2 separate regions of the Homo sapiens genome follow, and region 1 is linked to region 2. Evidence: fine-mapped expression QTL. Tissue or cell type: whole blood. Region 2 holds a variant in brackets; the other region holds the start of a gene. All regions are shown on one strand. Distances are from middle to middle.

Region 1 (9,078 bases), 26 kb before region 2:
CCAGCTACTTTTGTATTTTTAATAGAGATGGGGTTTCTCTGTATTGGTCAGGCTGGTCTCGAACTCCCGACCTCAGGTGATCCACCCACCTTGGCCTCCCAAAGTGCTGGGATTACAGGCGTGAGCCACCACCCCAGCTGAATTTTTTTTTGGGGGGGGAGGGGTTTGCTCTTGTAGCCCAGGCTGGAGTGCAATGGCATGACCTCAGCTGACTGCATCCTCTGCCTCCTAGGTTCAAATGATTCTCCTGCCTCAGGCTCCCGAGCAGCTGAGATTGCAGGCCCATGCCCACCACGCCTGGCTAATTTTGTATTTTTAGTAGAGACTGGGTTTCTCCATGTTGGTCAGGCTGGTCTCAAACTCCTGACCTCAGGTGATCCACCCACCTCATCCTTCCAAAGTGCTGGGATTACAGGCGTGAGCCACCATGCCTGGCCTGAATTTTTATAATGAACATAATAGTGGCAAAAACATTGTTTCTGGTTTTCAATATTTGACTGGGGTTTAGGGAAGAGTCCACCAAGGGGGACATAGCTTGTTTTTTTAGGTGGGGGTCTCCGTCACCCAGGCAAGAGTACAGTGGTTTGATCATGGCTCACTGCAGCCTAGACCTCCTGGGCTCAAGCCATCCTCCCGCCTCAGCCTCTCATGGTGATCATACGGATTTGAGTCACAGCAGCTGGCTTAATATCTTTAAAAATGCATTTTAAATAATGAAAGTACTGCTCCTTTGATCAGCTTATGCTAATTTGTGTGACCAGCAACGTTGCATCTCGGAAGTCAAGGATGTGGCTGGGGGTGGGGCGGGGGGTTCTGGGGCCTACACGTTACATCTAGTGGTCATCAGTTCTTGGGGCTCGGGGAGCCTTTGGGACGTCCTCTTGAGATCACAGGGAGTGGAGACAGGACTGGGAAGTGACACACCTCACCCATGAAAGACCTGCCAGAGATGAGTTTGATCCCCAGCTTGGGGGCGTCCAGTGGTGAAGTGGGAAGAGGAGTGACATGGGTACTGGTGAGCACTGCATGATGATGCTACACAGTTTGGAGGCAGAGAAGAATCACCCCAAAGACTAATATTTAAACACTTTAAATTATTTTATTTTATATTTTAAGATGGAGTCTCGCTCTGTCACCCAGGCTGGAGTGCAGTGGCACGATCTCGGCTCACTGCAACCTCCACGTACCAGGTTCAAGTGATTCTCCTTCCTCAGCCTCCTGGGTAGCTGGGATTACAGGCACCAGCCATTATGCCCGGCTAAGTTTTTTTTTTTTTTTTTTTTTTTTGGGACGGAGTGTTGCTCTGTCGCCCAGGCTGGAGTGCAATGGCACGATCTCGGCTCACCGCAAGCTCAGCCTCCCGGGTTCACGCCATTCTCCTGCCTCGGCCGCCCGAGTAGCTGGGATTACAGGCGCCCGCCACCATGCCCAGCTAATTTTTTTGTAGTTTTAGTAGAGATGGGGTTTCACCGTGTTAGGCAGGATGGTCTCAATCTCCTGACCTCGTGATCCTCCCGCCTTGGCCTCCCAAAGTGCTGGAATTACAGGAGTGAGCCACCGCGCCTGCCCTATTTTATTTTATTTTTGAGATGGAATCTTGCTCTGCTGGCCAGGCTGGAGTGCAGTGGTGCAATCTCGGCTCACTGCAACCTCCGCCTCCCAAGCTCAAGCGATTCTCCTGTTTCAGCCTCCCGAGTATCTGGGATTACAGGTACTTGCCACCATGCCCGGCTAGTTTTTGTATTATTATTATTTTGAGACGGAGTCTTGCTCTTGTCACCCAAGCTGCAGTGCAGTTACATGATCTCTTCTCACTGCAACCTCCCTCTCCCAAGTTCAAGTAATTTTCCTGCCTCAGTCTCCGAGTAGCTGGGAGTACAGGCGCCCGCCACCACGCCCGGGTAATTTTTGTATTTTTAGTAGAGACATGATTTCGCCACGTTGGCCAGGCTGGTCTCAAATTCCTGCCCTCAAGTGATCCGCCCGCCTCGGCCTCCCAAAGTGTTGGGATTACAGGCGTGAGCCACCGTGCCGAGTCTGAAACATATTTTAATTATGTTTCTCCAGTATTTTTTTTTTCTTAAAATTTTCTTTTTTTTTTTTGAAGACAGAGTCTTGCTCTGTCGCCCAGGCTGGAGTGCAGACGCGATCTCAGCTCACTACAACCTCCGCCTCCCGGGCTCAGCCTCCGGAGTAGCTGGGACTACAGGCGTGCGCCACCACGCTTGGCTAATTTTTTTTTTTTTTTGTATTTTTAGTAGAGTCGGGGTTTCAACACGTTGGCCAGGCTGGTCTCAAATTCCTGCCCTCAAGTGATCCGCCCGCCTCGGCCTCCCAAAGTGATGGGATTACAGGCGTGCGCCAGCGCGCCGGCCTTCTCCAGTATTTTTGCATGCATCTTACGGCACACCTTTGCACGCCATCTTATTAACTATATCATACTGCCGCACGTGCCTTTTCGGCCAAGGCATCCAGATGGTGCGGGTCCTGCCTGCCTCGAGAGGTGGCAGCAAAGGAGCCAGTGCCCTCACTGGTGCTGGGCGGGGCGGCCGCTTTCCTCGGAGGGAAGGGGCGGCGTTGGCGGGGGAAGGGCGCCAGGGCCCAGGCCCTGAGGGAGGGGCAGCTCGCCCGGGCCACGCGGTGCCGGCCCTCGGCTCAGGCCGGGCTGAGGCCCCGGGGGCTCGGGGTCCGGGGGAAAGGCGCTGAGCCAGACAGGTCCCAAGGAGCCTTCGGGAAGGGAGGGCCTCGTGGCGGCCTGTCCGGGACCCGGCCGGGAGCAGGGGTCGCGTGGGCGCCGTCAGGACGGGCGTGAGGTCCCCGGGACCACGTGTTTGCGTTTGGTGGCCCAGGGGTCGCTGACAGGTGCGGAGGGGAGACGCCCACCTGGGTGCCCTGGGCCGCACGCCGGGCGGTGGGGCCGGGAACCCCTGCTCCTCCTCGGCCTCCGATCCGCTGCGGCCCTGGGTCCTGCTCGCTGCCCGACGCCGCTGCCACAACCTCCGCCCGGGCCCCGCAGCCCGCCGCCCGCCGGAAGCTGAAAGGCGTGTCCGACCCCGCCCCCGGGCGCGACCAATCAGCGCGCGCGACTCATGAATAGTGAGCGCGCTGGCACCGCCCCGCCCCCGCCTCCCGCGGCACCGCCCGCCCGCGCAGACCCCGAGCGCGGCCGCGGACGAAGATGGCGACCGCCATGTACTTGGAGCACTATCTGGACAGTAAGCGCGCCCCACGGGCCCCGCGCCCGCCGCCCACGCGGAGTCCTCCGTGCCGCAGCCCCCCGCGCGCCGGGCACCGCATGCAGACCCCGTGGGCTCGGGAGGGCGGCGGGCGCGGCCGGGCGCGACGGGGGGCGCGCGGACGGGGCGGGGCAGGGCCGCAAGGGAGGGGAGGGCGCGGGGGGCGGGCGCGGGGGGTCCCGCCGGCTGGGTCGCGCCAATTCCAGGTGCGTCACGGCGGGGCGGGGCCTGGCGATGCTGGGCGGGGCTTGCGGCCTCGACCCCGCCCACATATTAGGTCCCGCCCCTACCCAGGCCCCGCCTCATCTCCGCCCCCAGCTCCGGCCCCGGCCCCGCCAGGTCCCGCCCGTCCCTGTCCCGTCTGCAGGAGGAGCTGGCGCCCGCTGCGGGGCTCCGGGCCTTGGGGGCTCCGGGGTCTGGGCCTCCGCCTGGCTGTGCGCCCGTGTGCGCCGGCCTCTTGTGTGACCGCGGCTGGGGAGGGCGTGCGGGCCGCGGGGCGTCTCTCCCCGGCACTGGGGACTGCGGCGCGGAGGCGGGGAGGGCGGTGCCGAGTCGGCCCTGGTGGGCGGGCTGTGCTGTTTCCAGGTGGCAGCAGGTCGGCGCCCCCAGCGGCTGAGCGGACGGTGCTTTCCCTCACTTTACACACCAGGGAAGGTCCAGCGCTGCCGAGCAGCCTGCTCAGGGTCTCCCGCTCGTAGAGGGGCAGACCCCACGCGGGACCCCTGACGTCGGCCCGGGATGGGCACAGCTTTGGGGTCGCGGTGTTTGGGGTTGTGCCGGGTGGCTCTGGAGGGCCCTTGTGGGGGCGCTGCACTGGGGATCCTCATGGTCTTCGGCCTGGCACCCGCCCAGGGGCTGAGACAGTGGCGAGTGAGCCGTGGCCTGGAGCTGGAGACCGCTGCCCTAGAGGGACGCCCGATTCTGCCCATGTGCTCCGCTGTCTCTTGGGGGTCTGAGTAGTGGGGGGTTCCCTGGGTAGAAGAGTCAAGCTGGGGAGCACGCTGGAGGGGAGGCCTTCTCTATCCTGGTGCCCAGCCAGTGGGCTGGCCTCCCAAGGAGGGTTGACTTTGTGTGTGTCTGGGAGGCTGTGCCAGCCGGGAGGCTGTGCCTCTGTCCTCTAGGGGAGCTGGGAAAACACTGGGGCTGGAAGCATCAGATGCATAAGATAGAGTTAGGTTTAAAATGATTGCCTGGTAACTGTGAACAGCAGATGGGAGGGTGGCCAAGACTGGAGGAGGCAGCCCCCCTTAGGAGCCTGTGTCAGCTGTGCAGGGGGCGGAGGTTGGCCTGGTCTAGGGGGTAACAAAGCAGACGCGAAAGCAGCACGGGGGTCCTCCTGGCAGACTGTGGGGAATGGTTGCGCTAGCCACAGGGACTATTTAAGTAAAATTAAAAATTGAATGGCGTTAGTCCCATTTCCAGTGCTCAGTAGCTCCCTATGGCCACCACTGTCTTGGGCAGCTCAGAGAGAACATTTCTTTTCTTTTTCTTTTTTTGATTTTTTTTGAAATGGAGTCTCACCCTGTTGCCCAGGTTGGAGGGTATGATCTCAGCACACTGCAACCTCCACCTCCCAGGTTCAAGCAATTCTCATGCCCTAGCCTCTCGAGTAGCTGGGACTGTAGCTGTGCACCACCACGCCTGGATAATTTTTGTATTTTTAGTAGAGACAGGGTTTCACCATGTTGGCCAGGCTGGTCTTGAACTCCTGACCTCAACTGATTTGCCTGTCTTGATCTCCCAAAGTGCTGGGATTACAGGTATGAGCCACCACGCCCATCCGAGAGAGGAAACATTTCTATCCTTGCATAAAGTCGCGTGGGCAGCGTGGCTACACTGCTCAATGCACTGGATTTCTGGGTAAAGTAGGGGAAGATCAAGGAGGACCCAGGGGATTTTGGCTTGAGCCTTGGAAGATGCTGCTCACTGAGGGGGGGCAGCCTAGAGGGTGGGGTCAGTTGGCCTCCCCTGCCTGTGCTGTTGGTTTCCAAGTTTCCCTCTCCCTTCTTTGACTTCTGACAGCTTCCGAAGTGTGCACACAGCCTCTTGTCAGCACTGTTTGGTACCTGCATCTAAAAATGAGATCACAGTCCTTCCGCTCCGCAAACCCTGACAGAGACAGAATACAGAGTGGGCTTGTAGACTTGAAGTATAAAACTTTTGGCCAGTCCTGGTGGCTCACACCTGTAATCCCAGCACTTTGAGAGGCCGAGGTGGGCGGATCACCTGAGGTCAGGAGTTCGAGACAAGCCTGGCCAACCTTGTGAAACCCCGTCTCAACTAAAAATACAAAAACTAGCCGGGCATGGTGGCATGTGCCTGTAATCCCAGCTACTCAGGAGGCGGAGGCGTGAGAATCACTTGAACCTGGGAGGTGTAGGTTGCAGTGAGCCAAGATCGCACCACTGCACTCCAGCCTGGGCAACAAGAGTGAAACTCCATCTCAAAAAAAAAAGACAGAAAACCTTTGGAGGTGAATTTTTGTCTTGCTGCTGAGAGGTACATGGCTTCTGTGTTTTTGCGTTTCAGGTATCGAGAACCTTCCCTGCGAACTTCAGAGGAACTTCCAGCTGATGCGAGAGCTGGACCAGAGGACGGAAGGTGGGTTCAGACCTCTCCATACAACCAGAACTGAGTTCTGACAGGTGGGAGCCAGCAGCTCCTGAAGGCTGGGGGCAGAGGGTTTTGAGGGGACCCAGGTTAGTGGGGCATTGGCCTAGCCCTGGGCCGTGGGTATCACTCAGTGTCTTGCAGTAGGTGTTGATACTTTTGAAGCCACATTGTTTCTTGGGTTCTTACACATCTTTATATCATGTTTTTATAACCATCACCCTTTCCAATCAAAATATTTATTGCCAATTTTTTCTTTTAAATATTTTCAATTTTCAAAGTGTGTAGTGCGTGCATTGTTTTAAAAGTTTGGTAGTACTTTTTGGCCGTTTGATATTTAACTCCGTTTCTTTTTTTTTGAGACGGAGTCTTGCTTTGTCGCCCAGTCCGGAGTGCAGTGACGTGATCTCAGCTCACTGCAAGCTCTGCCTCCTGGGTTCACACCATTCTCTTGCCTCAGCCTCCTGAGTAGCTGGGACTACAGGTGCCCGCCACCACGCCTGGCTAATTTTTTTTTTGTATTTTTAGTAGAGACGGGGTTTCACCGTGTTAGCCAGGATGGTCTTGATCTCCTCACCTCATGATCTGCCCGCCTCAGCCTCCCAAAGTGCTGGGATTACAAGCGTGAGCCACCTCGCCTGGCCCTAACTCTGTTTTTTTCTTTTTTTTTTTTTTTTTTTTTGAGACAGAGTCTCACTCTGTTGCCCAGGCTAGAGTGCAGTGGCACGATCTTGGCTCACTGCAACCTCCACCTCCCGGGTTCAAGTGATTCTCCTGCCTCAGCCTCCCGAGTAGCTGGGACTACAGTCACATGCCACCACACCCAGCTAATTTTTTGTATTTTTAGTAGAGACAGGGTTTCACCATGTTCACCATGTTAGCCAGGATGGTCTTGATCTACTGACCTCATGATCCGCCTGCCTAGGCCTCCCAAAGTGCTGGGATTACAGGCATGAGCCACCGCGCCCGGCCCTTAAACTCCCTGTTTCTAAACAACATGTTTTTGTTGCTGTTTCTTATTTTATCTCTCGTCAGTTTTAGACGTTGTTCAGACGTATATGGCACAGGCAGCTGTACTTCTCCAGTGGCCCCCACACCCTCACATGCCCTCACCTGGCTCCCCCATCTCCTGGCTGTAGGTTGTTAGAATTTGTGGTGAGACCAGTGATGGGACTTCCATTGGGCAGCTGTGTAGGTACTTTAACACTGAGCCATGCCACCTGCTGTGCTTATATGACCTCTTTGGAATAACTTTGTGTATTTCTTAGAGTTACTCATGGCCCTGTTTGTTGGCTTTGTTTTCTGCATTCGACCCTTGTCTCCCCAGCTGGGCTTTTCCTTGTGGTCTGTCAGGCTGTCTACCCTGACAGTTCTGTGTGTGCTTTCTTTCCGCAGAGCCCTCTGTCCTGGAGGCCACAGTCCTGATTGTTTCCATGCCAACTGCACACTTGTTGCCCTGAGGTTTTCCTGGGATCTCCTTTCACCCCTCTTCAGTGTGGGACCCTCTTCCCTGAATCTTAAATGTCTTCTTTTTGCCCTTGCTCTCCTGTTTTGATAGAGCCTTTCCTTTGGTAGGTTCCTGAAAAAAAGGCACATAGGAAGGTAGATTTTCTTGGCCAGGCACGGTGGCTCATGCCTGTAATCCCAGCACTTTGGGAGGCTGAGGTGGGCAGATCACCTGAGGTCAGGAGTTCGAGACCAGCCTGATCGACATGGAGAAACCCCGTCTCTACTAAAAATACAAAATTAGCCGGGTGTGGTGGCGCACGCCTATAATCCCAGCTAATTGGGAGGCTGAGGCAGGAGAATCACTTGAACCTGGAGGCGGAGGTTGCACCTGGAGATCGCACCATTGCACTCCACCCTGGGCAACAAGAGCGAAACTCCATCTCAAAAAAAAAAAAAAAAAAGAAAAAAAGGAAGGTAGATTTTCTTGTAACATTGCATGTCTGAAAATGTGTTTGTTCTAGCCTCATACTCAGCTGATAGTTTGGTTGGGTATAGAATCCTAGGTTGACAATTGTTTTCACTCAGGAAGTTGGCGACATTGCTGCCTTGTCTCCTAGCTTCCACGTTGCTGCAGAAAATCTGGTGCCGTTTGGATTCTTGGTCCTTTATATGTGTGATCTATTTTTTTTTTGTTATTCCTATTCAGAAGCTTTTGAGATGTTTCCTTTATCTCTGAAGTTTTAAATTTCATGATAATGTGTTTTGGTGTGGCAATTTTTTTTTTTTTTTTTTTTGAGATGGAGTTTCACTCTTGTTGCCCAGGCTGGCGTGCGATGGCGCGATCTTGGCTCAACACAACCTCTGCCTCCCAGGTTCAAGTGATTCTCCTGCCTCAGCCTCCCGAGTAGCTGGGATTACAGGCATGCACCATCATGCCCAGCTAATTTTGTATTTTTAATAGAGATGGGGTTTCTCCATGTTGATCAGGTTGGTCTCAAACTCTCAACCTCAGGTGATCTGCCCGCCTTGGCCTCCCAAAGTGCTGGTATTACAGGTGTGAGCCACTGTGCCTGGCCTGAGATTTTTTATTCATTATGCTGGGCACAGGTTTGTTTTTTTTGTTTTGAGATGGAGTTTCGCTCTTGTTGTCCAGGCTGGAGTGCAATGGCACGATCTCAGCTCACCGCAACCTCCGCCTCCCGGGTTCAAGCAATTCTCCTGCCTCAGCCTCCCGAGTAGCTGGGATTACAGGCATGCGCCACCACACCCTGCTAATTTTTTGTATTTTAAGTAGAGACGGGGTTTCTCCATGTTGGTCAGGCTGGTCTTGAACTCCTGACCTCAGGTTCATCCACCCGCCTTGGCCTCCCAAAGTGCTGGGATTACAGACGTGAGTACCACACCCGGCCTGGGCACATGTTTTGCAAGACTGAGATAGCTGTGTTTTTTTCCTTAGGTACAGCATCTTGACTAGGGAATACAGAGAGTTATTTTATTGTGAAATGTAACATATATTCAGGAAATGAATGTGCAACAATTATAGATTGCTTAACAAATATTACCAGGTGAACCTCTCTGTTGTCTGCTACCGAGATGGAGAAATCAAGCCCTTTGGCACCTGAAGGCCTTTGTGACCCTCCTAGTCATGACACCCCTCCCCAACCAAGGGGTGACCATCCTGAGTTTGGTGACAGTCACCTTCCACCTTTAACAGTAGTTTTCTTTTTTTTTTCTGAGACGGAGTCTCGCTTTACCATCAGGCTGGAGTGCAGTGGCACGGTCT
Region 2 (9,033 bases):
GGGGAAGAAGGACCCACCTGTTAAGGAGGAACGCCTGGGTGTCAAATCGGTTTTGCTCATTGATGGTGTATCTGTCAGCTTCAGAACCGGCGTCCTGCATAGAGCCGCACGTGCATCGGCGCATTTTCCCTGCGGGAGGGCCGCGGCCCCACTGCGTGTGCCTCTCCTGGTGCCCTCCTGCCGGCGTCCAGCAGCCCTGGGAGACATGGGGAGGCGGGCCCTGGGCACCCTGCGCGCTGGCGGAAATGGCGCCCAGGGCCTCACTGCGCCTTTCTTGTCACAGGTTCTGTCCACGGTGTGTCCAGGAAAAGAGGAAGAAGAAGTAGGAGGAGCTGTGTGCCCGGATCCGAGGAGCAAGTTAATCTGTCCCTTCATTCGTGTCGCAATATTTCCCTTCCTTTTAAAACTACCTTGTTCGGTTGATACTTAGTAACTCCGTGGCCAGTTGAAGCGCTGGATGTTTCCTAGAACAAGAACCACCAAAGCCTGTTCGCACAGAAGGGCGACCTTGCAGGGACTCGCCGCCGCGACCTCAGTGTGGCTTTTACAGGACTCCCCCCGAGCATCAGCAGGGACCCCGGCGGACGTGGGCGGGCGCGCGTGAGCTCGGGCTGCCCGGCCGGGCGTGCGGGCGGGGACATGGTAACCTGGTCCACGGAGGGCGGCCGCCACCCTCGCGTAGCTTTCCTGTGGTTTTCCAGGACTGTCCGGTACAGCCCGGGCTCCGCGTGCCCCGCCCGCTGGAGCACCTGCCACCGAGGCGCGCGTGGGGCCACTGCCGTGGCGGCGGCTGCCCTCCTCACACTCGGCTCCGCGCCGCCTCCGGCCACCGTGCGCTCCCGCGTGGGGCGCCTCGGATGGGCCCGGGAGGGCTGGGGGCTCTTCCCTGGAGGAAGCGGCCTCCGCTTCGCTGGCGCCGCCTTTTTAGCTTGGACTTCAGTCCTCCCTCGGGGACTCACCTCCGGAGTAAACGGCTCTTCATTAGCTTGGAGTGGCCGCAGGTCCCGTGACCAGCACCCGCGAGACCCTGTGCGACAGCTGGGCTGATGCTCCGTTTCTCTGGGAATTGGTGATTTTTTACTGTGAAGATGAAATTACCCTAATAGCATGAAGATCGTGGGTCTGTGTGTCCGTGAAGTGAGTCCCGTCTGCCAGGAGCTGACGAACCACGAATGCTTCTGCCTGTGCTGTGCATTCCCAGGCCCGCAGCTCCCGGTCGAGGGGACTCCGATGTGAATTTGTTGTGAATTTGTTGTGCCACAATAGCAGTTCTGGAATGAAGCTAGGAAACTCGAGTGTGCTTTTTGTTTAATGAGCGTTCACCAAGCTGAGCCGGAGCCATCCTTTCGGTGGTAGTTGGGGAAGGCTATGCAGATTTGCTCTGTTGTGACGCGTTGGTGACGGTGCCCAGCCTGCGGTTCCCCACAGCATCGCAGGCGCTCGGAAATCCTCTCCCGTGCCTTTAGAGGAAGGAGAGGATTGCTGAGGAATGCAGGGACGCCTGTTTCTGTCCTCACACCACAGAAAGAAACCTGAGGGAAAACTGAGACGTGAGGTTCCTGATTTAAGAAGCCTGGGTTTCTTCATGGTGGGGGGCCATTTGGAATGACAGCCTCACTTCCTTCTGATGGCTACATCTGTATCTTTTCCTCCTGTGTTTAATGTTTCACTAGGGAGAGGAAATAAAGCAGAAGGAACGTGTGAAGCTCTGTGTCTCAGACGGGGCCCTCCCGTCGAGAAGCTGGTAGTCAGTGAGTGAGAACAAGAGAACAAGAACACCCTGAACAGTCCTGGTTGGGATGGTGTCCACATTCATGTTCTGCGGTTCTTGAACACACGGATGCCTCTGGGCCACCTGTCCTTTTCCGAGGGTGTGGGTGGGAGTGGATCCTCCGGGCGCAGGTGCCAGGCAGGTGCAGGCGGGCGGTCGGCCACTGCTGCTGCTCGTCCCTGCCAGTGTCTGGGCCTGAAGGGGCTCCCTCCAAGCGGTGCCTTCCTGCGGCTTAGAAGGGAAAGCGCCAGAGAGGGCAGGCTACAGTGCTTCACACCCTTCGCCACGGCTGTGAAACTGGAGATGGGTGGGTTTTGTATGTTAATTTTTTTTTTTGAGACGGAGTCTTGCTCTGTCACCCAGGCTGGAGAGCAGTGGCGTGATCTCGGCTCACTGCAAGCTCCGCCTCCCGGGTTCACGCCATTCTCCTGCCTCAGCCCCCCCGAGTAGCTGGGACTACAGGCGCCCGCCACCACGCCTGGCTAATTTTTTATATTTTTAGTAGAGACAGGGTTTCACCATGTTAACCAGGATGGTCTCGATCTCCTGACCTCACGATTTGCCCGCCTCGGCTTCCCAGAGTGCTGGGATTACAGGCGTGAGCCACCGCGCCTGGCCACCCAGCTAAGTTTGTATTTTTGTTGGAGACGGGGTTTCACCATATTGGCCAGACTGGTCTCAAACTCCTGGGGTCAAATGATCCGCCTGCGTCGGCTTCCCAGAGTGCTGGGATTACAGGTGTCAGCCACTGCGCTCAGCTGGGAGATGAATTTTCATTTAATGACTTAACTTTTTGTTAGCACAGGTTTTGTGTGTGTGTGTGTGTGTGTGTTTTGTTTTTTGTTTTGTGTTTTTGAAACGGAGTTTTGCTCTGTCACCCAGGCTGGAATGCAATGGCACCATCTTGGCTCACTGCAACCTCTGCTTCCTGGGTTCAAGTGATTCTCTTGCCTTAGCCTCCCGAGCAGCTGGGATTATAGGCGTCCACCACCACGCCCAGCTAATTTTTGTATTTTTAGTAGAAATGGGGTTTCACCATGTGTGGCCAGGCTGGTCTCGAACTCCTGACCTGAAGTGATCCACCCGCCTCGACCTCCCAAAGTGCTGGGATGACAGGCATGAGCCACCGCACCCGGCCAACACAGATGTTTATTGATCGTGGAGGATACATTGTGGAAAATGTTTTTCTCTCTTTTACCATTTTTGGGAAGAGGGATAGGTAAGTGCAGGGAGTTTGTGCTGAAACAGCGCCTGGCAATTTTTCAGAAATGAATTTGATATTGCGCTCCACCTTTGAGCTGTTCACACCTGTGGCTACCCCTGGAAAGCGCTGGGGTTGTTGATGCTTTTGGCTGCCCGGCTTCCTGAGGTCTCGCTGCTTTTTGGGGAAAGATGACTGGCTTCCCTGTGGGACGCTTTTGTCTGACACGTGATGATGTGGTCCTGCCTGCCACTGTGCACCATCCCAGGTATTGAATTTTGACCTTTTCTTTTCAAGTTTCTGTGCTTAGTGTTTTTAATGTTTACTTTTGCCACTTACAATAATATCACCAAAATAATATGCATAGAGTTTTGGAAGAAACATAGAAAACATGAGCAGAATGAGACAATTCCTTGGGCTGTAGTTTGGACCCAACTGAATCCTGAGTGCTCTGTGGCTGACGCTGTCTACCCGTGGGAGAGACACACTCAGGAGTGGCCGTTTGGCCAGAAAAGAAGGTCATGGCCCCTGGCCTGGCCCCCGCCCTGCAGGGACACAGAAGCCACACCATTTGCACCATCCACGCCTTGCTCCAGAAGGCCTGGCCGCCTTCTCCCTGGGGGTGATTCAAGGATTTGGTCTCGGACCAGACCCCCCTCCACAGCTGCCCGGCCCCAGACCCATCTCTTGGATTGAGGGTGTGTGGGCTGGAACCAGTGGGTCACTGTGGCAGCTTCATCTGAGCCGAAGGTGTGGGTCCTCTGTGGCTGTGCGATTGACCTCGATGGGAAGGAGCGTTCTACCCATTTTCCTTGTTTTCAGTGCTGCGGTATCAGTCAGTGATCTGAGGAAATCCTGTAGGGGAAGGCAGGCTGCAGTGAAAACAGGAGCTGGTGAAACCGAGCCCTCTGCATCTGCGAATGTGCCCTAGGTGCTGCTGCTGGGGACATGGATGCCAAGCGGAGGCCTGCGTGGCCTCCTGAGCAGCAGCTGAC[C/T]GCCCGTCTCATGCTGGACGGGACCCCTGGGCGGGTGGACATGAGACCACTGTTGGCCAGGGACGCCGTGCGGAGGCCTACGTGGCTGCCTGAGCAGCAGCTGACCGCCCGTCTCACTGTTGGCCAGGGCTTTGTGGCGTGGGTGTTTTCCAGTCTGCCTGGAGCAGCGAGAAGCAGCTGTGCAGACTGGTGGCGGTGGGAGGGTTTGCTGGGACTGATGGGGACACCGGCCAGCTTGTCTGGTGTCCAGCAGCCCTGCCGGACTTGGCCTCCTGTCCTGTCGTTGGGAGCCCTGGCTGGGGCTGCTTTGAGCAATGACGCTGGCCCAGAGCAGCTTCCCACATGACCCCAGAGCCGAGGGTCTGCCCTGTCCTAGGTTAGGTCTTCATGGTTTAGAGTAAAACCGTGAGGGATGTTAATTATGGGCATTGAAGACTTAAGGTTTTCTTAAATTTTTAGTGAGCAGTGATTGGCCTTCAATACTTGTGCTGAGAGGAATTTTAAGCCAGGGGAAGTGTAAGAAAATGTTCCCATTCAGGAGAGATTGTGTTGGAGTTTCTTTCTTCCTCTGTATGTATTTTGTGGTGTCCACCTTTAACCACGTTTCATCCAAAACGATGATGCAGCTTTAACATGAATGTTACATTTTTATTTTCAAGGAATTATTATCTATGTTCCCTTTGTAAAGGAAAGATAATGTTGTAAATCTTTTTATTAGATAATGTAAAGATGTATATCAGTATTTTTGGATCATGTTATAGATTATGGATATATTGTTTAATAAATAAAGTATTTTTTGGAACAAACAATTGAAAGTGCATCTGTATTAGCCCGTTTTCACGCTGCTGATAAAGACATACCCGAGATTGGGTAATTTGTAAAGAAAAAGAGGTTTTTTTTAAAAAAAATTTTCTTTTCTCTTTTTTTGAGACGGAGTCTTGCTCTGTCACCCAGGCTGGAGTGCAATGGCACTGCATGATTTCGGCTCACTGTAACATCTGCCTCCCGGGTTCAGGTGATTCTCCTGCCTCAGCCTCCTGAGTAGCTGGGACTACAGGCACGTGCCACCACGCCCTGCTAATTTTTGTATTTTTAGTAGAGATGGGGTTTTGCCATGTTGGCCAAGCTGGTCTTGAACTCCTGACCTCAGGTGATCTGCCTGCCTCAGCCTCCCAAAGTGTTGGGATTACAGGCGTGAGCCACCGCACCTGACAGAAAAAGAGGTCTGGTGGACCCTCAGTTCCACATGGCTGGGGAGGCCTCACAATCATGGCGGGAGACGAAAGGCTTATCTTACATGGCAGCAGACAATAGAAAATGAGAGCCAAGTGAAAGGGGTTTCCCCTTAAAAAAACCATCAGATCTCGTGAGACTTATTCACTACCACGAGAAAAGTATGGGGGAACCACCCCCAAGACTCAGCATCATTTTGGGAAACAGGTGTAAAATGTCAGTGTTGTGCCCAGAGACAGGTGTGTGAAATTGAATTCTGAAGGGGTATGCAGTGATTGGAGAGTGGTTTGCGGAGCTTGCTGGCTGGGGGTCTGGGGAGGACCCTGTGCCTTACCTTGGGTGGTTGCTCAGGAAGCTCAGTGGCCAGTGCTGGGGCTCAAGTTGACTTCCAAGGAAGACGTGTGAGAATGCTGCAGTTGCTTTCTTTTTTTTTTGTTTGAGACGGAGTCTCACTCTGTTGCCCAGGCTGGAGTGCAGTGGTGCAATCTCTGCTCACTGCAAGCTCCGCCTCCCAGGTTCACGCCATTCTCCTGCCTGTGTCCCGAGTAGCTGGGACTACAGGCGCCCACCACCATGCCCGGCTAATTGTTTGTATTTTTAGTAGTGACAGGGTTTCACCGTGTTAGCCAGGATGGTCTCGATCTCCTGACCTCGTGATCCGCCTGCCTCGGCCTCCCAAAGTGCTGGGATTACAGGCGTGAGCCACCACGCCCGGCCGCTGCAGTTGCTTTCTAAAGGAGTACTGTGCTTGCTCTGGAAGGGCAAGACTTACCGTGTTGCACTTGCCTTTTGGAAGCTGCTGGAGTCAGCTTAGGCTCTGTATTAGTCCATTCTTGTATTGCTATAAAGAACGACCTGAGACTGTGTAATTTATAAAGAAATGAGGTTTAATTGACTCACAGTTCTGCAGGCTGTACAGGAAGCGTGGTGCGGAGGCCTCAGGAAACTTACATCATGGCAGAAGGCGGAGGGGAAGCAAGCACGTTTTACCACGGCAGACCAGGAGAGAAAGGGAGCAAAGGGGAAAGGTGCCACACTTTTAAACAAGCAGGTCTCCTGAGAGTTCACTTACCTCCACAAGAACAGCAAGGGGAAATCTGCGCCCATGAGCCAGTCACCTCCTACCAGGCCCCTCCCCCAACATTGGGGATTATGGGCGGGGACACAAATCCAAACCATATCAGGCTGTTATCACAATACCACAGACTGGGAGGCTTAAGAAAAATGTCTTATATTTCTGGAGATTGGAAGTCCAAGATTAAGGCGCTGGGGTTGTCTGGTGCCTGTCCAGGGCTCTTCCCTTGGGTTGTGAACACTGCCTTCTCATGTGTGCCTACGAAACTGACTGGGAGAGGGAGCTCTCTGGTGTCTCTTATTTTACGGATGCCTGTCCTGTCGGATCAGGACCCCACCCTTGTGACTGACTTTAACCTTAATTACTTCTTCAGAAGTTCCATCTCCAAATACGGCCATATTGGGGGTTACAGCTTCTGCATACGAATTCTGGGGGACACAAACATAACAGGAGCTGATGGGTCTCAAGATGTTGCCTTGAGGAGTGCATTAACAGAACCCGGGAAGAGCTTGGTCATCACGAGGTACAGTCGGCCTCTCACCCACCGTCCAGGTGAAAACCAATCCGTAGACTGGAGTCCTCGCTGGAAGAGGAGGCTGAGATGCTGGGGGAAGGCCCCACAACGCCGAAACCAGCACCTGCCATCTCGCTGGAAGAGGAGGCTGAGATGCTGGGGGAAGGCCTCACAATGCGGAAACCAGCACCTGCCATCTCGCTGGAAGAGGAGGCTGAGATGCTGGGTGAGGGCCCCACAACGCTGAAACCAGCACATGCCGTATTTTCCTCCAAGCATTCTCTGAGGGTACATGTGGGCTTTGCTAGGGTGACTATGCCCTGGGAAAAAGAAAAATCAGTTGTTATTATTTTCTGAGACAGTTTTTTTTTTTTTTTTTTGAGACAGAATCTCACTCTGTCGCCAGGCTGGAGTGCAGTGGCGTGATCTCAGCTTACTGCAACCTCTGCCTCCCAGGTTCAAGCCATTCTCTTGCCTCAGTCTCCCAAGTAGCTGGGATTATAGGCACCGACCACCATGCCCAGCTAATTTTTGTATTGTTGGTAGAGACAGGGTTTCACCATGTTGGCCAGGTTGGTGTAGGGACCAGCCCCACAGGGTCGGTGGGTCTCTCCCCATGTGCGGAGACGAGAGAGTACAGAAATAAAGACACAAGACAGAGATAAAAGAAAAGGCAGCTGGGCCTGGGGGACCACTACCATTAAGTTGCGGAGACCGGTAGTGGCCCCGAATGCCAGGCTGCACTGATATTTATTGGATACAAGACAAAGGGTCAGGATAAGGAGAGTGAGCCATCTCCAATGATAGGTAAGGTCATGTGGGTCACGTGTCCACTGGACAGGGGCCCTTCCCTGCCTGGCAGCCGAGGCAGAGAGAGAGAGGAGACAGAGAGACAGCTTACGCCATTATTTCTGCTTATTAGAGACTTTTAGTACTTTCACTAATTTTGCTACTGCTATCTAGAAGGCAGAGCCAGGTGTACAGGATGGAACATGAAGGCGGACTAGGAGCGTGACCACTGAAGCACAGCATCACGGGGAGACGGTTAGGCCTCCGGATAACTGCGGGCGAGCCTGACTGATGTCAGGTCCTCCACAAGAGGTGGAGGAGTACAGTCGTCTCTAAACTCCCCCGGGGAAAGGGAGACTCCCTTTTCCGGTCTGCTAAGTAGCGGGTGGTGTTTCTTGACACTTTTCGCTACCGCTAGACCACGGTCCGCTAGGTAACGGGTGTCTTCCCAGACGCTGGCGTCACCGCTAGACCAAGGAGCCCTCTGGTGGCCCTGTCTGGGCATAACAGAAGGCTCGCACTCTTCTGGTCACTCCTCACTATGTCCCCTCAGCTCCTATCTCTGTATGGCCTGGTTTTTCCTAGGTTATGATTGTAGAGCGAGGATTATTATAATATTGGAATAAAGAGTAATTGCTACCAACTAATGATTAATGATATTCATATATAATCATATCTAAGATCTATATCTGGTATAACTATTCTTATTTTATTATACTGGAACAGCTCGTGTCTTCGGTCTCTTGCCTCGGCACCTGGGTGGCTTGCCGCCCACAGTTGGTATCGAACTCCTGACCTCAGGTGATCCACCTGCCTCAGCCTCCCAAAGTGCTGGTATTATGGGCGTGAGCCACCGTGCCTGGTCAGAAAAATCAGTTATTTTAGGGGATGGTATGGGTGGTAATCTTTATGGGTTTTGAATCATTCCTAATCCCAGGGGTCCAAGATGCCACTGGCCTGCTAGTCAAAGGGAGGGCGTGTGGAGGTCAGGTGGTAAGGGGGTCCACAGACCTCATCTGTGGTCGTCTTTCCAGTTCCTGAATGTGTAATTGCAACAGTTACCCTTGACAATGGGCAAACTCCCACACTCATCTGCAGAGCAAGGGCCAGCCAGGTAGGAAGGGCCAGGTGGATGTCTCCTTTCCAGGGTTGTATGAATGATTCACCTGGGAAGAAGGTGAGTGGCCTCTGGGGATGTGGTTAAGGAGGACAGGAATGACTCCTTGCAACTGCTGCTCCAGAGCCTCATCACCAGGACAAATCCAGCTCGCCGGTTTTCTGTGTGACTACCAGGACCCATCTGCTGTCACGGGCGTAGCCTCCACCTCTTGCACAGCTCCGCAGTCCTGCCTCGGGCCAAGTGTGGTCTCCTGCTCTCTGCCCTCATCTGCTCAGAGATTGGCATCCTCTGCACCCGCTAGGGTTCTATGGAATTGGGTGAGCTGAAGTAACAAG

The links. PIP is the estimated chance that this variant, and not a neighbour inherited with it, causes the effect.
Region 1: ING5 starts here. The variant in region 2 is fine-mapped to the expression of ING5 in whole blood (TOPMed, PIP above 0.99).

What each region holds. Positions count from the first base shown.
Region 1 is chr2:241,698,888-241,707,965 of GRCh38, forward strand. It overlaps ING5 (inhibitor of growth family member 5), which reads left to right and starts at 3,152. Exons shown (of 8, transcript NM_032329.6): 1 at 3,152-3,215; 2 at 5,766-5,837. The coding sequence starts at 3,179. RefSeq lists silencers at 2,446-3,265, 3,008-3,171, 3,356-3,915 and enhancers at 2,570-3,402, 3,641-4,270.
Region 2 is chr2:241,724,706-241,733,738 of GRCh38, forward strand. ING5 (inhibitor of growth family member 5) reads left to right here. Exons shown (of 8, transcript NM_032329.6): 8 at 284-4,773. The coding sequence ends at 326. Among named protein-coding and RNA genes, the nearest start is that of D2HGDH, 5.4 kb to the right of the region's middle. The variant C/T (reference allele first, on the strand shown) is at 3,968.